Regions from separate parts of the Homo sapiens genome. Here all the other regions are reported to be linked to region 1. Evidence: microRNA targets listed by miRTarBase, many of them from high-throughput screens and not tested one by one. Region 1 holds a microRNA gene; each other region holds the end of a gene's coding sequence.

What was found. Region 1 holds the annotated microRNA hsa-miR-659-3p (CUUGGUUCAGGGAGGGUCCCCA, at 2,555-2,576, opposite strand). A microRNA usually pairs through its seed, bases 2 to 8, with sites in the 3' UTR of a target mRNA and lowers its output. Matches are read on the target gene's strand: a 7mer-m8 pairs with bases 2 to 8, a 7mer-A1 pairs with bases 2 to 7 and ends in A, and an 8mer does both.
Region 2: miRTarBase lists RAPGEF2 as a target of hsa-miR-659-3p. Seed matches in the 3' UTR shown: 7mer-A1 at 2,193-2,199.
Region 3: the mRNA of EXOC2 is a reported target of hsa-miR-659-3p. Seed matches in the 3' UTR shown: 7mer-A1 at 3,596-3,602.
Region 4: the mRNA of NPEPPS is a reported target of hsa-miR-659-3p. Seed matches in the 3' UTR shown: 7mer-m8 at 888-894.

The regions. Positions count from the first base shown.
Region 1 is chr22:37,845,139-37,851,543 of GRCh38, forward strand. It overlaps MIR659 (microRNA 659), which reads right to left and starts at 2,636; the gene lies at 2,540-2,636. It overlaps EIF3L (eukaryotic translation initiation factor 3 subunit L), which reads left to right and starts at 4,281. Exons shown (of 13, transcript NM_016091.4): 1 at 4,281-4,344; 2 at 4,877-4,925; 3 at 6,142-6,352. The coding sequence starts at 4,312. It also overlaps a transcript of ANKRD54 not described here. RefSeq lists enhancers at 3,400-3,922, 3,923-4,445, 4,446-4,967.
Region 2 is chr4:159,356,592-159,362,996 of GRCh38, forward strand. RAPGEF2 (Rap guanine nucleotide exchange factor 2) reads left to right here. Exons shown (of 30, transcript NM_001394067.2): 30 at 1,523-3,582. The coding sequence ends at 1,548. Among named protein-coding and RNA genes, the nearest start is that of MIR3688-1, 230 kb to the left of the region's middle.
Region 3 is chr6:482,916-486,915 of GRCh38, forward strand. EXOC2 (exocyst complex component 2) reads right to left here. Exons shown (of 28, transcript NM_018303.6): 28 at 2,239-3,849. The coding sequence ends at 3,756. Among named protein-coding and RNA genes, the nearest start is that of IRF4, 93 kb to the left of the region's middle.
Region 4 is chr17:47,621,598-47,625,597 of GRCh38, forward strand. NPEPPS (aminopeptidase puromycin sensitive) reads left to right here. Exons shown (of 23, transcript NM_006310.4): 23 at 171-1,679. The coding sequence ends at 323. It overlaps KPNB1-DT (KPNB1 divergent transcript), which reads right to left. Exons shown (of 4, transcript NR_171700.1): 4 at 1-490. Among named protein-coding and RNA genes, the nearest start is that of KPNB1-DT, 26 kb to the right of the region's middle.

The DNA.
Region 1 (6,405 bases):
GATTTCCTTTAGTCAGAGTTCTCTAGGTAACCCCGACGTAGATGACTGATCTACAAAGATTTGTAATACAAAGTGATTACATTAGAGCAATAGTTTAGTTCGACAGCCAGTCACTGAGCCAGGTAACTGCTAGGTCCTGGACACAGGATCAGACTTGGTGCCCCTGAGATGCTCACAATCCAATGGGAGAAGACCAGGAAACAAATAAGTGTTCCTCAAGCAACATTTCATGGGTGCACGTTTTCATAAAACTTCTCACAATCCCGTACCCCACAAGCACTTCTATAAAGTAGACAAGAAGGACCATCCCTATTTTATAGGTGAGGAGTTGAAAAGCAGAGGGAAGAGACTCATTCACAGTTGCCCAGCTCTCACCGGACCAGGTCTTGTGTCCTGGCAAAAGTTCTTTCCATATATAAACCCTCCCACTCAACCCAGTTAAAATGTAATCTTTCCGCACGGTGGGTCACGCCTGTAATCCCAGCACTTTGGGAGGCCAAAATGGGCAGATGACAAGGTCGGGAGTTCAAGACAAGCCTGGCCAACATGATGAAACCTCGTTTCTACTAAAAATACAAAAATTAGCTGGGTGTGGTGGCGCACGCCTGTAATCCCAGCTATTCAGGACACTGAGGCAGGAGAGTAGCTTGAACCTGGGAGGCAGAGGTTGCGGTGAGCTGAGATCGCACCATGGCACTCCAGCCTGGGTGACAGAGCGAGACTCCATCTCAGAAAGAAACAAAAACAAAAAAAAGGCCTGGCGCTGTGGCTCACGCCTGTAATCCCAGCATTTTGGGAGGCTGAGGCAGGCAGATCACGAGGTCAGGAGATTGAGACCATTCTGGCTAACATGGTGAAACCCCGTCTCTACTAAAAATACAAAAAAATTAGCCTGGTGTGGTGGTGGGCACCTTTAGTCCCAGCTACTCAGGAGGCTGAGGCAGGAGAATGGCGTGAACCCAGGAGGCAGAGCTTGCGGTGAGCCGAGATCGCACCACTGCACTCCAGTCTGGGCGACAGAGAAAGACTCCATCTCAAAAAGAAAAAAAAAAGTAATCTTTCTCTTACAATTGGAAAAGCACTTCCAGAATTTTCAGTGTTTGCAGTCGCCATTGTGAGGTTTATCATTGTACTATATGGAAAAAAATGCTATGTTTATTTGTACTCTCCTCGTCTGCCCCATAATGGATACAGTGCTGAGACAGGATCTCTCACTGTCACTCAGGCTGGAGTGCAGTGGTGTGATCACAGCTCACTGCACTCAAGCTTTCCTCCCACCTCAGCCTCCTGAGTAGCTGGGGCCACAGATGTGTACCACCGTGCCTGGCTAATTATTTTTTTGATTTTTTGTAGACATGGTCTCACTTTTTTGTTCAGGCTGGTCTTGAACTCCTCGCCTCAAGGGATCCTCCTGCCTCCACATCCCAAAATGCTGAGATTACAGGAGTGAGCCACAGTGCCTGGGCCCCAATTTTTTTTTAAGATGGGGTCTCACTATATTGCCCAGGCTGATCTTGAGCTCCTGAGCTCAAGTGATCCTCCCACCTTGGCCTCCCAAAGTGCTGGCATGAGCCACCACATCCAGCCCCATGAAAATCTTCTGACTTCACAACTCCTTCTCAAATGTCATGAACATTTTGAGAATTGTTGTCAAATTGGAGCAACCTGTATCAAATTCCTGTCATATATGGACTATAAGATTTCAGGTAATTTCTTTTCTTTTTTTTTTTTTTGAGACGGAGTCTCGCTCTGTCGCCCAGGCTGGAGTGCAGTGGCAGGATCTCGGCTCACTGCAAGCTCCGCCTCCCGGGTTCACGCCATTCTCCTGCCTCAGCCTCCCAAGTAGCTGGGACTACAGGCGCCCGCCACTACGCCCGGCTAATTTTTTGTATTTTTAGTAGAGACGGGGTTTCACCATTTTAGCCGGGATGGTCTCGATCTCCTGACCTCATGATCCACCCGCCTCGGCCTCCCAAAGTGCTGGGATTACAGGCGTGAGCCACCGCGCCCGGCCAATTTCTTTTCTTTTTTCTTTTTTTTTTTGAGGCAGTTTTGCTCTTGTTGCCCAGGCTGGAGTGCAGTGGTGCAATCTTGGCTCACCACAACCTCCGCCTCCTAGGTTCAAGTGATTCTCCTGCCTCAGCCTCCCGAGTAGCTGGGACTACAGGCATATGCCACCATGCCCGGCTAATTTTATATTTTTAGTAGAGACGGGGTTTCACTATGTTGGCCAGGCTGGTCTCGAACTCCTGACCTCAGGTGATCCATCTGCCTTGGCCTCCCAAAGTGCTGGGATTACAGGTGTGAACCACTGTGCCAGGCCTCGGAGAAGGGTTATTATTTAAACTAGAAACTAAATGTCTCCCAAAGTTAGCTCGGTTCGAGCCAGGAATGATTAAGGGCAGTCTGAAGATTAAATGGAAGATGAGGGTTGGTTAGATCAGATCTCTTTCACTGTCATTATTTTCTCACTGTTACAATTTTTGCAAAGGTGGTTTCAGCAATAAAAATATTTCACAAATTTTACAAAAGCAAAGGACCATGAGGACATTGTTGGGGACCCTCCCTGAACCAAGGAAGAGACTGTGACTCTTCCTTGGTTCAGGGAAGGTCCTGAACCAAATCGAGGGTCGGTAAAGCTTAAGCTCCATTATTTCCAAATTTGTGTCACCTCTGGTGACAGCACAAGGAAGAAACACAAAACAAGAACGCAGCATAGGGAGTTGGGGCTGGGCATTGCAATTCTCAATAGGATGTTGAGTGGATGGCATCAGAGCAGACACCTGAAGGTGCCATGCAGATACCGATGGGGAAGGGAATGGGAGTGGGGGTGCCACTGCATTCGATTCTAGACTTGGATAACAGTGAGTGCAAAATCCCAGAGGTGGAGCGTGCCTCAGTGGGAAAAGCAAGGAGGGCGGCGTGACAAAGGGACCCAGAGAGTCCTGGTCACACAGCAAATCAGTGGCGGAGTAGGGACTGGAACTCGGATTTCCACTAGGTGTTGTGTATGGGCAGATGGCTAAACTAAGGCCTCTCCTTGACTCATACACCGGTTTTTATTGGTTTGCTTTATAACCCCATCTCTACCTTGAGGGTTTCCCCTGGCCTCGAACCCGGTGTACTCAAGAGCTGCCCATGTCCCAGGCTTCGCGACACAGCTGGCCTCATCTTTGCCTGCTCCAACTTTAATGTCCAAAGTTGGGTGGCTCCTGTTCTCCATTCCCTCTTACTGCATGGGACCAAATCTCAATTTTTTTTTTTCTTTTTTTTTTTAGACGGAGTCTTGCTCTGTCGCCCAGGCTGGAGTGCAGTGGCGCGATCTCGGCTCACTACAGCCTCTGCCTCTCAGGTTCCACCGATTCTCCTGCTTCAGCCTCCTGAGTAGCTGGGATTACAGGCGGACGCTACCACTCCCGGCTAATTTTTGTATTTTTAATAGAGACGGGGTTTCGCCATTTCGGCCAGGCTGGTCTCGAACTCCTGATCTCAGATCATCCACCCGCCTCGGCCTCCCAAAGTGTAGGGATTACAGGCGTGAGCCATCGCGCCCGGCCAAATCTCAATTTTTATCCCCAGTAAGTTTAGTCTTGTGAAGTCCGAACGTTTGAATAATTTACTCGCTGCAGGCAAACCGCCTACAACTAAATCCATCAGGCCCCCGTATCCGAATCTTCCTTCACGCGAGAAGCCGGCCATCTTTTGTGTAGCATTCTTTCTGGTTCCTCTAACTTTGCCTCTCCTTTACGCCAAATACGTGTCCTTATATCTGAATCTACACCACTATTATAGATTCACCTTCTTTGAGAAGTCCCTATTTGAAGAGAGGAAAATTCAGGCTACTTGTAACCCTCTTATTCTTTTTAGACGGAGTTTTCCCTCTTGTTGCCCAGGCTAGAGTGCAATGGCGCGATCTCGGCTCACCGCAACCTCCGCCTCCCGGGTTCAAGCGACTCTCCTGCCTCAGCCTCCCGAGTAGCTGGAATTACAGGCATGCGCCACCACTCCCGGCTAATTTTGTATTTTTAGTAGAGACGGGGTTTCTCCATATTGGTCAGGCTGGTCTCAAACCCCCGGCCTCAGCCTCAGGTGATCCGCCCGCCTCGGCCTCCCAAACTGGTGGGGTTACAGGTGTGAGCCACGGAACGCGGCTCCTCTTCCTTCTGGATATGGCTGTCTCAGATGGCCAGAGGCCTCGGAAAGGCTTCCGGTTTCCCGGCAGGCCCGAGTGGGGCTGAACTTCCGGCCTCAGGACGCAGGCGCGGGCCGCTCATTTCGCTCTTTCCGGCGGTGCTCGCAAGCGAGGCAGCCATGTCTTATCCCGCTGATGATTATGAGTCTGAGGTAAGGTGGCCGTAAGGGCGCGGTGGGCTCCACGACGGGGTGATCTCTGGGACCACTGGATGTGGGTCCCGGCGCGAGGCAGCTTCCGGGTCGCGGCCAGCTCCGGCCGACCTCCCGCCCGGCCCTCAGGCTGCTCCCACAGTTCCCGGTCCCTAGACAACCCTGGCTCTGCCCGCCCACTTCGCGTGTTCGATTGGCTTGTCCTTCCCCTTTCTAAGACCGGAGACTAAGGCCTGTTAGACGTTTCTGTGTTTCTGCACCTGAGTTTTTTTGGTCTAGGCTCCGTCTGGTCAAATCTCGCTGATTCCCACAGCCTCTTGTCCTTTGCTCCACCTCATTGCACCCGTAATGTTGTATTGTCATTGTCTGTTTACTGTCCCTTTTCTCTAAGGCGTGTGAGTTCCTCAAAGGCAGGCACAGTGTCTTATTCGCCTCTGTATCCTTAGCTCTCTGCTTGGCATCTAGACTCTAGGATGAGCGTTTTGAATTCACGACTTGGCGGCTGTCCTTGACTGTGTCTCTTTCCTTCTAGGCGGCTTATGACCCCTACGCTTATCCCAGCGACTATGATATGCACACAGGTGAGACCACGGGTTAGGCTGGCTGAGTACTCGTAGGGATCAGTTCCTTTGGAATGTCTTAGAACCAGCTCTGACAGGCATCAAAAATTGCTCTTTGATGGTCCAGGTTTGGAGTCAGTCATTAGCTGCCAGTGCGAGGGGTTTTATAAAGCCTAATAAACCAGGCTTTTTATCATAGTCCACCTCAGTCTTGGAAGAGAAGGATTACTTACCTGGCTATGGTTTTCTTGTGTAAACTATTAGCCAAATAAGAAAAGCTTTTTTGTTTTTGTTTTTGTTTTTGTTTTTGAGATGGAGTTTCCCTCTGTCCCCCAGGCTGGAGTGCAGTGGTGCGATCTCGGCTCACTGCAACCTCCGCGTCCCTCGTTCAAGCAGTAGTTCTCTTGTCTCAGCCTCCTGAGTAGCTGGGATTACAGGCGCCCACCACCATTCCCAGCTAATTTTTAAATTTTTTTAATAGAGACGAGGTTTCGCCGTGTTGTCCAGGCTGGTCTTGAACTCCTGACCTCAGGTGATCCACCCGCCCCAACCTCCCAAAGTGCTGGGATTACAGGCGTGAGCCACCGCGCCTGCCCCAAGGAAGAAAATCTTGATGTGAAAAATTTAAGTAATTCAAACCAAGCCCGAATGAAATCTTTTTAGGAGGTGTCTGAGGTTTCCTGAAACGTTATAGTGACTTGACTTAGTAGTCAGTGTTATCCATTGTTCTAAGTACTTTGTATGAAATATTTTGTTTAATCCTTACAGCAGTTCTGTATGTTAATGTCTCCTAAAGAATAGAAAATATAGCAGAGAGGTTTATTAGTAGTAACTTGGCACAGTCATATATTTAAAAGGTGACAGTTATTCATTCAAGAAATATTAAGTACCTGTTACCACTTACTTTCCAACAGTCTTGCCTCTCTCCCCTCCAACGCACACTTTTCTAGGCCCTGAGGGTATGTCTGAGTACAAGACAGACGAGATTCCTGACTTCCTAGACTTGGGAGAAGGGTGCAAAACAGATAATAAGTGAAAAATAACTTTAAGTCATGGTAATATTTTTGAAGAAACAGGGACAACGAGATTGGGAGTGACTTGAGATGTTTGTATCTCTGAGTATTCAAAAGGGAATTTTACGCAGACCTGAGTTTAGTTTCTGGGGTGGTCTTGCCATTTCGTTCTATCATATATGTGGGTTTGAGCATACTCTGTATTTGTTGTATCCAACCTCCAGGAGATCCAAAGCAGGACCTTGCTTATGAACGTCAGTATGAACAGCAAACCTATCAGGTGATCCCTGAGGTGATCAAAAACTTCATCCAGTATTTCCACAAAACTGTCTCAGATTTGATTGACCAGAAAGTGTATGAGCTACAGGCCAGTCGTGTCTCCAGTGATGTCATTGACCAGAAGGTGTATGAGATCCAGGACATCTATGAGAACAGGTATGGGCTACTGGCTGAAAGGGCCTCTTTCTGGGTGGGACTGGCCTGGTAAT
Region 2 (6,405 bases), not on the chromosome of region 1:
TGTGACCCTATTTTAAGAAAAAGAATAGGCCAGGTGCGATGGCTTACACCTGTAATCCCAGCACTTTGGGAGGCTGAGGAGGGCAGATTACTTGAGCTCAGGAGTTTGAGACCAGCCTGGCCAAAGTAGTGAAACCCTGTCTCTACTAAAAATACAAAAATTAGCCGGGTATGGTGGCAGGCACCTGTAATCCCAGCTGCTCGGGAGGCTGAGGCAGGAGAACCACTTGAGCCCGGAAGGCAGAGGTTGCAGTGAGCCAACAACATGTCACTGCACTCCAGCCTGGGTGACAGAGTGAGACTCTGTCTCAAAAAAAGGAAAAGAAAATGAAAATTTCACAAGTTTGTGCTGTTGTCAAGAATTTTAGAAGCATGTAGGATTCTCAAAGGTGGATGGTTAAAGTTTTCTGTGGAAACATTATATTTGCGCTTTTAATGAATTGGGACTCATTTGGAAATGAAAGTCTGATAAAGAAAGATACATTATCAGCCAGCCTGATGGCTCATGCCTGTAATCCCAGCACTTTGGGAGGCTGAGGTGGGAGGATTGCTTGAGGCCAGGAGTTCGAGACAAGCCTGGGCAACATAGTGAGACCTGTCTCCATAAAAATATTTTTCAAATGACCCAGGCGTGGTGGCGTGTGCCAATAGTCCTAGCTACTATGGAGGCTGAAGTGGAAGGATCACTTGAGCCCAGGAGTTCAGGGCTGTGGTGACCCATGATTGTGCCACTGCACCGTAGCCTAGGTAGCAGAGCAAGACCCGGTCTCTAAAAGAAAGAGAGAGAGAAGGGGAGGGAGAAAGGGAAGGAAGGAAGGAACCCACATTCTTTATAACTCTTTGTGCGTTCTTTCTACAAATCTATCTGACCATGCTGAATTGAGAATGAGGAAGGAGAACATGGCCTCCCATCTTCTTTAAAGTTTTCAGTTTAACATGTTTGATTACACAATCATAGAAAAAAGCAACACGTGACTGGGAGATTGGGAGGCCGAGGCAGGAGAATCGCTTGAGCCCGGGAGGCGGAGGTTGCAGTGAGCCGAGAACACTGCACTGTGGATGGCAAACCCACACCCTGTCTCAAAAAAGTTAAATTAAATTAAATAAATAGAAAAACATTACAAATGAAAATTACTTAAAATCCTGTCACTTGCAGATAGCCACTATTAAAATGTTGTTATATATTCTAGACTTTTTATGTGTATCTGATCGTATATTTTTTTTAAATGGCACATGCTATTTTACAACTTTTTAAAATGAATTTAACAACTTTCTGAACAAAAATATATAATGCATATCTTTTTAATATTGTGTGTATATATGTAAAGATATGTATTGCATACATTTTAACCTTTTTGTTGTTCGTCATTGTTTAGGAAAAAAAGACAAGGATTCTAAGTGAGCTATACTAAAAAGAATAACTATGATAGTTTTATTTAGCACATCAGTGAATATATTCTCTATAGCACAAGAAATTACTTGCTTGCTCATTGATTTCTTTTTCTTCCCTGCTGTATTTGCAGAAGATGAACAAGTTTCTGCTGTTTGAGGCACAGACTTTTCTGGAAGCAGAGCGAGCCACCTGAAAGGAGAGCACAAGAAGACGTCCTGAGCATTGGAGCCTTGGAACTCACATTCTGAGGACGGTGGACCAGTTTGCCTCCTTCCCTGCCTTAAAAGCAGCATGGGGCTTCTTCTCCCCTTCTTCCTTTCCCCTTTGCATGTGAAATACTGTGAAGAAATTGCCCTGGCACTTTTCAGACTTTGTTGCTTGAAATGCACAGTGCAGCAATCTTCGAGCTCCCACTGTTGCTGCCTGCCACATCACACAGTATCATTCCAAATTCCAAGATCATCACAACAAGATGATTCACTCTGGCTGCACTTCTCAATGCCTGGAAGGATTTTTTTTAATCTTCCTTTTAGATTTCAATCCAGTCCTAGCACTTGATCTCATTGGGATAATGAGAAAAGCTAGCCATTGAACTACTTGGGGCCTTTAACCCACCAAGGAAGACAAAGAAAAACAATGAAATCCTTTGAGTACAGTGCTTGTCCACTTGTTTACAATGTCCTCCTTTTAAAAAAAAAAAATGAGTTTAAAGATTTTGTTCAGAGAGTAAATATATATCCATTTAATGATTACAGTATTATTTTAAACCTTAAGTAGGGTTGCCAGCCTGGTTTCTGAAAAACCAAATATGCCGGACAGGGTGTGGCCACACCAAGAAGACGGGAAGACCTGGCTTGTGACCCTGGCTTCCCATGTCCTTCTGGTCTCACCCGCGAAGTGCCCTATCCTGGAAGTATGAAATGTTAGCCAATTAATACCAAGACACCTCATCTGCTCCTTCCCCAGTGGATGGGGTTCTTCTGTAAAACTGTTTGCACATGGCCAGGGGAGGGAACTAGGACCCTTGTGTCCTGTCTGAGCCTTATGGAGGCAGGACGGTGTCATTGGCGGATGTGTCCTGCTCCATTGAGATGGATGGCAAACCCCATTTTTAAGTTATATTTCTTTGATTTTTGTTAATTTAGAGGTGTAGGTTTTGTTTTTTGTTTTTTTGTTTTTTTTTAAGAGAAACATTTATAACTGGATAGCATTGCAGTGAAAGCAGCTTGGGATGTTGGAGCTAATGCCAGCTGTTTATACTGCTCTTTCAAGACAGCCTCCCTTTATTGAATTGGCATTAGGGAATAAACAAGCCTTTAAACGTGATAAAAGATCAAAAACCTGGTTAGACATGCCAGCCTTTGCAAGGCAGGTTAGTCACCAAAGACTAACCTCCAAGTGGCTTTATGGACGCTGCATATAGAGAAGGCCTAAGTGTAGCAACCATCTGCTCACAGCTGCTATTAACCCTATAATGACTGAAATGACCCCTCCACTCTATTTTTGTGTTGTTTTGCACAGACTCCGGAAAAGTGAAGGCTGCCAATCTGAGTAGTACTCAAATGTGAGGAACTGCTGGTCTTGGATTTTTTTTCCATTAAATTCAGCTGATCATATTGATCAGTAGATAAACGTAAATAGCTTCAAATTTTAAAAGTGGAATTGCAGTGTTTTTTCACTGTATCAAACAATGTCAGTGCTTTATTTAATAATTCTCTTCTGTATCATGGCATTTGTCTACTTGCTTATTACATTGTCAATTATGCATTTGTAATTTTACATGTAATATGCATTATTTGCCAGTTTTATTATATAGGCTATGGACCTCATGTGCATATAGAAAGACAGAAATCTAGCTCTACCACAAGTTGCACAAATGTTATCTAAGCATTAAGTAATTGTAGAACATAGGACTGCTAATCTCAGTTCGCTCTGTGATGTCAAGTGCAGAATGTACAATTAACTGGTGATTTCCTCATACTTTTGATACTACTTGTACCTGTATGTCTTTTAGAAAGACATTGGTGGAGTCTGTATCCCTTTTGTATTTTTAATACAATAATTGTACATATTGGTTATATTTTTGTTGAAGATGGTAGAAATGTACTATGTTTATGCTTCTACATCCAGTTTGTACAAGCTGGAAAATAAATAAATATAACATAAAGCCTTGCCTATATTCTTAATGAATCATGCATGCTTTTTATTATTAAATTGGAATAGAAGCCTTTCGTCTCCTGCAGAAGCAAGTCCTTCGGCTGGAGAGATTTAGCCTCATGGTTATTGGAAACTGCCCAATAGCCTATTTATTTTAGGCAGATCTCTGTTGATCCAAAGCAATTAATATCATTAACGTTAGCACCAGCCAAACCATGTTCAGAATTCAGTGTTTCTTGAAAATGAAGATGCTGTCACAATATATTTGCATAACATTTGTCTCTTCTCAACCGTTTCCAACAATAATCTTTATGGTACGTAATATTTTGGTTCCCAGTATACATACTGAGAGACAGGACCTCAGAGAAACTGACATTCAAGGTCATGATTATTAAGTGGAGAGTACAATTTAGCTAGTGATTCTGGACTTCTAACTAGTACACAATATGAGTGCTGATGTGTGGTAAGTCTGAATAATACTTTAGTCTATCAGAAGGGCACTTAATTTTAAAAGGTAAAAACCAGTAAGTAGCAGCCTGCTTACGCACATGTTTAAATGAGTGACTCATTTCTTTTCCTCAAGCAAGCATAACTAAAAGTATTAGCCATCAGCCACTGAGAAGTCTCAGAAGTCAGAGTGGAAGCAACTGGAAGCAGAGGCACCAAACACTGGAACATGTGAGGGAGCCTGAAGAGGAGCGGGAGGAAGGTCCCTCCAGAAGCTAACAGGAAAATGGCCAGGGCTAGGCTTCAAGATCTTTCCAAGGTATTCGTGCCAGCTATTTTGCTGAGAAATTTTGAAAACCTGGACACCAAAATAGTCGGGAAAATTATTTATTTATTTATTTATTTATTTATTTTTTAACCATTCTAGTAGCTTCAACCACACCTTTTAAAAAATGAAGAACCTGCGTGTTTGTGTATGTTGTTACATGCTCATCTCTGTTGTCTTTTCACTTTAAAACCCATTCCTCAGGGACTTTCCTAGACTGTCACTCAGCTTAATTTTCTCAAACTTTTTTTGAAAAAATACTAAGAATCTGATGTTTTGGAGAATAACCTCTTTATCATTACTGTGTGTGTTCTGCTAAAAATATGAGACAGTGACAAATAGGGCATGGTTCGTTTTCCTTTTAGGTTTTATTAGACTTTTATGTTTTAGGATACTTCCTCCGTGTAGCACAAGACTGGTCTCCACTTAAGGGTTTCCAGAAATAAGTATTTGCCAAGTGTAACAGTTTGCAGGGACAGAGTTTATGTTATGTTAATAATAGAACTTTGCCAAGTTTTAGGGATATTGTAGAAGGTTTTGGTGAAGGTCTGATGCTCTCCACCCTAATCAAAGAGGCCACACAGACCGGGGTCTGTGTTTTCATACATACAGGTTGAAGTCCTCAGAATGTTTTTCTCAGCCTCAATCCATTTCTCTGCTTTTGGGAGGTATAGATTTTATGCTCATCTATGATTTAATATGTTTTACCTTTAGTTCACTGATAATATCCCAAAATGAATAATGCAAGCTTCTGAGGATGCATGTATCAACACACCTTTTGGTCTCTGCCTCTCAACGCCAGTGCACTACATTCATGCCAAAGAAAAATAGGAAACTCTCTTGAGCGCTTTATCCCATGATACCAGCATTCTTTAAAAAAAAAAAAAAAAAAGGCTTACCTAGAGAATAAACGTAATGCAGCAACTGAGGAGTCAAGTTGTTGATTGCAGAGGTAAATTATTTTGTGAAGATTCACTAAGGGTATAATATCAGCAGAGGTTGTTGAAAGGGGCAATAAGACGGAAATGTGTAAGGCAAACTGCAGCTGAGGCCAACATGACACTTTCAAGAAAGATTTTAAAGTGAGAATTTACCTATTTGAGAGTGAGACGAAAATACTGACTGGAACTGAAAAATAATTTATGAATTGCCTTTTTTTTTGAGACAGAGTCTCACTCTGTTATCCAGGCTGGAGTGCAGTGGCGCAATCTCAGCTCCACCTCCTGGGTTCAAGCGATTCTCCTGCCTCAGCCTCCTAAGTAGCTGGGACTACAGACGTGCACCACCACACCCGGCTAATTTTTGTGTTTTTAGTAGAGACGGGGTTTCACCATGTTGGCCAGGCTGGTCTTAAACTCCTGACCTCAAGTGATCCACCCGCCTTGGCCTCCCAAAGTGCTGAGATTACAAGCGTGAGCCACTGTGCCCGGCCTGAGTTGCATTTTTTAAAAGATTCACATTTTAGCCAAGTACAAGGCAAGCTAGTTGTTACTATGCCATAGCCATATACCAGAAAATTTTATAGAGGCAATCACGACATTCCATGCAAGGTTAAGAAATGCCAGAAAAGACTTTATTTCATGGGCAATCAAGATGGTAACAATTCTTATGGGAAAAATGTCTAAGCCTAGAATAAAATATCTGAAATAAATTGAGTCAAATGACCAGCTTTATAAAGACTGAAAGTGAAATCAACTTAATTCAGAGTGTTCAACACCTCAAAAATAGAAGTAAGTTTAATACAATTTAAGAAACTTTTGGCCAGGAACAGTGGGTCATACCTGTAATCTCAGCATTATGGGAGGCTGAGGCAAGAGGGATTGCTTGGTGCCAGGAATTCAAGAACCAGCCCAGGCAACAAAGCAAGACCCTATCTCTACAAAAAATAAAAAATACAGCCAGTTGTAAGGGTGTGCACCTGTAGTCCTAGCTTCTCAGGAGGCTAAAGTAGGAGGATCACTTAAGCCCAGGAGTTCAAGGCTGCAGTGATCTATGATGATGCCACTGCACTCCAGCCTGGGCAACAGGACAAGACTCTGTCTCAGAAAAGAAACATTTTAATAATATTGTATGACCTTGCCAAA
Region 3 (4,000 bases), not on the chromosome of region 1:
CAAGTATGTGGTCAGTTTTGGAATAGGTGTGGTGTGGTGCTGAAAAGAATGTATATTCTGTTGATTTGGGGTGGAGAGTTCTGTAGATGTCTATTAGGTCCACTTGGTGCAGAGCTGAGTTCAATTCCTGGGTATCCTTGTTAACTTTGTCTCGTTGATCTGTCTATTTTCAAGTTCCTTTACTCTTTCCTCAGTTATCCTCACTGCTATTTAAGCCCAGTCAGTATTTTTGCTTTATTTCAGAAATTATATTTTTTGGTTCTAAATTTTTCATTTTAAAAATTGTTTCTATGTCTGCTGATATCTCCTATTAAATTGTTGCTAACGTATTTTATTTTACTTCATTGTGGATAAAGTGGTCTTGGTTCTCAGGGATTTGTGTCTGGCTAGAGGGGTTGTAGGAAGGTGGTACGAGAATCTTTTTTTAACATGTGACGAGATGATAATGATAACAACCATGAAAATATCAACAGTGACCACAAGAAGAAAACCAACGGCTTCCAGTCATGGTAAAACACTGTTGAAGGCACAAGACAAGCTTCACTGCCCACTTTGTCTAGGATTTTCTGTGCCTAGACAGGAGAAAGACACTCTGATATCCTACTGCCTTTCATTAGCCAAACTGCAAACAAGTTACCCAAAGACCCAGGTCTTGTCCGTAAGATGTTTATTGCTATATATTTCTAACCTGGCCAGGTACAGAAAGGCTTTCCAGTAATACACGTAATAAACCTCAATGTAATAAATCCTCCTCTGGGGGAGCAGAAATGAGATGAGATCAGCACACAAAAAGCATAATGGCCCTAGTATAGAGTAATATGCAACTGTGTTTAAAGCAAAGCTAAAATAATTATGGCTGCTGCTCTAATTGAGGAGTGATATATTAAATATATCTTTCAGAGCAGTTCACAGATCTATATGAAAATCTTTGCAACAGAACCAACAGATAAATGTTCAGTGACAAAAATGTATGCAAGTTTAGTCTATGCATAATTATTTTATGAATATTACATAAAATATATTTGACTTTTAGAAACCTAATCTTGATTTAAAAACTAGTTAAAATTTGTAACTTTTCTGAAAACATTACACAACACGCTTATGAAACTAACAGAATATCCCATAGCACGTGATCAAAACAGAAATACACACCACCACCTTGTACCAAATCCAGAATAAAAATATAATCTCTTCTATTTCTTCCCTTTAAAAAAATCTACATGCAAAGATGACAAGAGACAGGAGAATGAGTCAGTGTGCTCAGCCTAAGGCAATGATGCTTGTTTTGCAATGCCCAAATCATTTCTAGAATATGCTCTTTCATGGTACACTGATAAAGAAAGTCTTAGTAAAAAACCAAGTGATTTCTAATAGCTCTTTCCCATTCAAGTGAGGCCAGCTCAGCTAACTCACATGAAGCCATGCTGTGACCCACAAAGAACATGGGTGTGCTGGAAATGAAATGCCACTGGAGCACTGAAGTACCTTGAACCTCCCTAATTTGTTTTCTCAGCTGCCTCGTTAACTTGCTCCAGGTCCTGGTTTCTCTCTCGGCTTTCATCTAACTTATTTCATATTCATCTCCTCTTACCCACTAAACCAGGGTTCTGTAACTCAAGTAGCTCTTGAAATCCCCCTTTCTTCCAAGAAGTCCCCCCTGACTTGTTGGAATAGTAGTCCTTGAACTCCCTCACTTGGGTATGGGGTTTTTAGGCCTTTACCTTCCACTCTGAGCCATAAAAGCACTACCGGTTTCCGTGTTGCTACTGTTTATTAGCCTCTGGAATTGATGAACTTTCTCTGAGCTGTGACCCAGGTGGATGGATGTCAGAAAGCATATTCCGCTGGAAGGAAGAGCTGAGCAGTAGTGAAGTCAAGGACATACAGAGCCAGAGTGTGAACATGAGTCCTGCTACTTACTGCCTTGCAGTCTTACGGAAGTCACCAACCTCTCTCTAAGCCCTGATTCCTTCCTCTGCTAAATGGACGTGGCGGTAAGCTAGCCCACATGTATCATAAGGCTGTTGTGAGGATTCAACGAGGCACTTCATGGTGTGCCTCGCACATGGTAAGTCCCCAGCAAACAGAATTAGCAGGACCTGACAGATGGTTTCTGACAATGTGTTTACCAATACAGGGTTAACCAGAATGTAAGTATTTTGGGTGTTAACAGTAGAAATATGAAAATGTTGAAATAAAGACACTTAGGGAAAAATGTCAAGTAAATTACAACTTACATTAAAGGCAGATTCTTTATTGGCTGAATGTGCTGTAGTAGATATTTAAAATATCACAAACATTCATGATTGCAGTTTTTAAACTTAGCTCACAGTTGAGTTAGATACAACAGTTAACATACTTAGGAAAGACAATTCTTAACAGCTTTATCAAGCACATTTGTGAAAGATTAAACTTTCATTTCCAGTTACCATGATGTCCCCCCATACACCAAATGAACCAACACATTTATTTATTTTAAATAATGGAAACTGTACATGGCTACACTGTGCTCTAAAATTACTTGCATTAATGAGGACATTAATTTTAGCATTTAAAAAAAGAGATTTAAAAATAACCATAGAAAAACTTGAAAACCCTGACAAGCCGACTACAAAGAGAATTCCTCTCTGAAAATTTTCAGATGCGACGGTATGAGGGAGTTGGGTGGGCCGCTGACTCTGAGAGAAGTCCCGGTGACCTGAACCTATTCCAGTGAAGCCAGTCAGCAGTGAATGTGGGGCAAGTGCATGCGGCTGGTCTACAGCTCCCATTGCCTGGTGACCAAGGAGCATCCTGAAGTTTCAGAGAAGAGACTGTGTGACAGCAGCATTGTTCCAGCTACTGAGCAAGATCCTTCAGCAGGTAAGAAGTGGCAGAGACAGTCACCTGCTGAAGGAGCGGGCAGGGAGTTGGCCGTCCACGCGGAGCCTGGCCTTTCCGTTAGGGGACCCTGAAGTCTGCGACCGCCCCGCCAACACCTCAGAGTGTAACACAGTGCCCGTTACACATTCACACTCCATCACAGATAACACACAGGGCCTCAGGGACTGCAACACGTGCATGTGTAGTGACGCACGACAAATTAAGAGTGAGTGAGAATGAAAGCTCATGCTTAGCCCTGTGAAAAATAAAAATCAGATAGCAAAACGCAAAGTTAAATCACAGACACCTGGACCACAAATAATCTACCCCAGTTGTAATATGTATTTTAATGGAGACCATAAATTTTTCCAAAAACCCGCTTGAATTAGAAAACTTAAGGCCATTTATATGAAATGAGGGTTTTAAGCACAGCTGTACAGTTTAGGACAGTAAGAGCTCCAAAGATGTCTACATAGCTTTCCAAATCTCGTATCAGTCAGTCTCTCCGTGTGTCGTGGGAGCTGCCTGCGCTTCCGTGAACGGGACACTGAGAAATGCTTCAATATGTGCCACGCCATTCCAGAAAACTCCCTGCAGAAGCAGCTCTTCCTGCAGCACTCAACCTTCTGCTGAGATGCAAAATATATTTTAAAATGTATTTTAAAGTCATACAGGATCTGATCTAGTAAGAATGGCAAAACAAATACTTCCTGGGCATTTCAAATGAGGTCATTTTGGTTGAAATGTATACCAACAATTTTCGAAGTCAGAGGAAGAAAAAAGAGAAAAATGGCAAACCCAATGTTTAATACACCAAATACCTTTAGGGTACTTAGAGAGTGAACAGTCTTATTACGTGTTATTTTCCTGGACTTCTTTTATGTGGCAGATATTTATGTTTTCATCATGGTTGAAGAAGCTGCTTGGAAACAGGTGAGCTGCAAGTGCATGCTACTCTTGAACTTGTTCAGGAGCTCTTCCAGTAACCTGCAGGACGGAGACACTTGTTTTACAGCCCGACAGATGGGGCGGCCTAGCAACGCAAGAAAACACCAGGGGAGCCAGTGCCCGGCTCTGCCTGGGCTTGCTGTGTGGAGAAGGCAGCTGAAAAGTTCTACCTATGGATCCTTAACTCAGC
Region 4 (4,000 bases), not on the chromosome of region 1:
CAGGTCCAAGGAGTTGCTTGTTTTCTTTTAGCCTGAGGGTGGCAGTGGTAAATTCTCATGCCTGAAGATTATGCATCCTTCATATAGACCAGTGGGTATTTTTTCATAACCTGTAATATTAACTTCTTATTGCTAGTAATGATCCTGCATTCTGGGTTGTTTTATACCAGGCTTTCTTCGAGAGTCACCCAGCTCCTTCAGCTGAGCGTACCATCCAGCAGTGTTGTGAAAATATTCTGCTGAATGCTGCCTGGCTAAAGCGAGATGCTGAGAGCATCCACCAGTACCTCCTTCAGCGGAAGGCCTCACCACCCACAGTGTGAATCCTGAGGTGCCGCCATTGGCGGTTCTGCTGCTTCGCTGCAGGGATAAGGTGGAGCTACCGAACAGCTGATTCATATGCCAAGAATTTGGAGTCTTCTTTCAAACCAGTGGGGGTTGGACAATGAATGTAGTTAACTGGTTCCTGCTCACACTCCAGAATTAAATTCTATTGAAAAAGGAAAATCAGCAATTCAGCAAAAAATAAATAAAAAATAAAAATGTAAATATGATAGTAATAAAATAGAGCATAACGAAACTGTGAAACTTTCTGAAGCCTTGTCAGTGGTTAAAAGTATTTAACACTCTACTGTTAATGACAGATGTTCTGTTTTTATAACCTACCAAAAGGAAACTAGAGGCTTCTTGGTGAAGAGCATTTTTGTGAAGTGGGTTCTGCAAGGAGCCTATAAAGCCAAGGGTGGTGTCCATTTCTGGGAATGGTTAAACACAAAAGGCTGATAGCTGGTATCACATAGTTGGAGTCAGTGCATAATTCCAAGTGGCTTTTTTTTTTTTTGGCACGGGGACTGATCAGGAAGATATATTCCTGCATAACTCAATCTGAACCAAGGATTGTAGTTTAGTTTTCCTCCTTGCCTTCCCTTCTGTGTGACCGACCCCTTGGCCAAAAAAAAACAAAAAGCAAAAAACAAAAACCTACCCTGTTCTGGTTTTTTTCCTCCCTTTAGTTCCACCCCCAACCCCCATTCCCTGGTGTCCTTCTTAGAGATGAAGAAATAATAAGGAAACATCTTTCATAGCCACATTAAATAAGAGAAACTGATATACATTATTTTTTTCTTTTTAAAGATGACTTATAAGAACCCTGAAATTTATATAGGTGAGACAATAGAAATAAAAAGATCTTCAGCCAGGCCTTTCTGAAGGAGTTATTCTGCTAAAAATGGTCTTAGTTGTCTGAAAAGCCAGCTCTTGAACCTCTTCACAACAGTATCAACACTGGCTTCTCCCGGTTCATTTTATGCGTGCGAGAAGTCAGTGGTAACTGCTGCAGGGCTTAATACATTAGTGGTAACTGGTTTAAAAAACAAAGACTGTAAGCCTGTGTGTGCCACTGTTTGCTTCAACAGTATATCCTAATAAGCCTCACCTATTTAATCCAATGAGTTTTAAATCTAAATCTCATTCCCTTCTTCTTTCCCTACCTTTTTTTTCTTTTTTTCTTAAAAAAATATTTTGTGTTATTAACAGAAATTCATATTTGGTGTGGCTTAACGGTATTTCAGAAGGTCATCAGATTGTGAGACTGCTTCCTTGAAACATTTTTGTGCTATTGTTTTAAAAAAATAATTAAAAAACAGTTGGCGTTAATAAAAATGTCAATGTGAAACTGATGTCCTGATTCACTTTATTCTCTTTCTTTGATAAGAAACTAAAAACTTTCCTATCATTCAGTAGGCTTATGCAAAGTTATACTATCATAGGATTTTTCAAATTCAAAAAAAATCCAGTTCCTTAATTCCTAATTTATAGATCTTAACAGAAAAATCCTGAGATTCATTCTAAATCAGTTCTACATTCTCAAAACTCTCTCAGAGACTCTTATAGTCAGCATTCAGGAATGAACTTGAGACTTCCTCAGTCCCTAGTTTTGAGGCACCCTAGTTCAGGCACCATGCTCAGGGCTGCCCTTAGGCTCTCAAATGTTCTTAAGGCACCAGTGAAGCAGGGGCACCAAAAAGACTGAGAAAAATGCAGGTTTAATTGAAGAACTCAGAATTTTGCAATCAGAAATTCTGGAAACAGGTTATTTTACTTTCAGCATACATGTGATTTTTGTCTGTAATAATAGTTAAGTAGTTTGAATTACGTTCAGGGAGAGGTTATACTAGATGTCTTCCATTTGCCTTTCAGAACCCCTCTTCATCCCACTCTGGACCCCAGCGGGTGCTGACCCACATGGACTGCAGCATGAATGGCTCCCTTGCCCTCTGACTTCAGCTTCTGTTTATCCAATTATTAATATCCAAAGAAGATGAGAAGATATAAGGAAGAGATGGTCAGAGTACTCTGGCTTTCTCATTGCCAGGTCACATGGGTTGTCTGTGTCCCTTTAGCAAAGACCACAGCTCTTACCAAGCAGCCCCCTCTAGCTTCTGGCTCCTTCTCTTTGCTCCTTCACATCTAGGAATAGAAAGAAAGGAGAACTCGAGAGCTGGGTGCGGTGGCTCACGCTTGTAATCCCAGCACTTTGGGAGGCCGAGACGGGTAGATCACCTGAGGTCAAGAATTCAAGACCAGCCTGGCCAACATGGTGAAACCCCGTCTCTACTAAAAATACAAAAATTAGCTGGGCATGGTGGCGCATGCCTGTAATCCCAGCTACTCGGGAGGCTGAGGCAGGAGAATTGCCAGAACCCAGGAGGCAGAGGTTGCAGTGAGCCAAGACCGTGCCACTGCACTCCAGCCTGGGCAACAAGAGTGAAACTCCGTCTCCAAAAAAAAAAAAGAAGACTCAAGCTGGGTGCGGTCACTCACACCTGTAATCCCAGCACTTTGGGAGGCTGAGGTAGACAGATCACCTGAGGTCAGGAGTTTCAGACCAGCCTGGTCAACATGATGAAACCCCTGTTTCTACTAAAAATACAAAAATTGGCCAAGCATGGTGATGCATGTCTGTAATACCAGCTACTTGAGAGGCTGAGGCACAAGAATTGCTTGAGCCTGGGAGGCAGAGGCTGCAGTGAGCTGAGATCGTGCCACTGCACTCCAGCCTGGGCAACAGAGCGAGACTGTCTCAAAAAAAAAAAAAAAAAAAAAAAAAAGGACTTAGTTACCAGCCCTGGATTACGCCATTATTCTTCATTGATTTTCCTGCACTCTGTCCATGTCTCTGTAAATAGTCCTTTATTAAACCTTCCTCAGTTTGTGTTCTTTCCTACCAATACCTTGAGTGATTTGGGCACAATAGCCCTGCTGCTTTGGGTCTCTAAAGGTTTTAATTCAGCCTTTTCTGTGTCAGATGTTTTGTTTTTCAAATAGCTCCCTATCATAAGTCATACACCCATTTTACAGATGAGAATGCAGACTCAGAAAAGTAAGGCAAATTAATACAGCAAAATAACTATCAACCAGTGATCAAGCCAGGTTTGCTAGTCTCCAAAGGCTGTGGTCTTTCAGGGAACTGCCATGTCTCCACAATTAAAAGATCATAGTTAGACTGGGCCAGGCAATAGCATTAAAGCTTAATTACTTTTTCCTAATATATTTTGGTTACAAATTTTAGTGGAAATCAGAAGGTTTGGAAGAAACAAGTATGTTAATGCCTCCTATGGAGAGTTTTACATTATTTTTCATTAATGAGATTCAGTAAAGCTTTTTGGAACAGTGGGCAGTGGTGGGGTGAATTCTCAACTTGCAATTTCTAAGGATAGGTTTTAGGGAGCAAGGAATAAATCTGTTGAGTACAACTTGGGGAGGATTAAGAGGAGTTCTATAGCTCTAAATAGATTCTTCAAATTCTATAACCCAAAAAGTTTCCAGAATTACCAGAAAGACATCATGGAGCCACATGTAAGTGCTAATGTTTTTTGTTTTTATTTTTTAGCAAGTTATTAAATAAAAGCAAGTGGGCCGGGCACAGTGGCTCATGCTTGTAATCCCAACACTTACCAAGGCAGGTGGATTACCTGAGGTCAGGAGATCAAGACCAGCC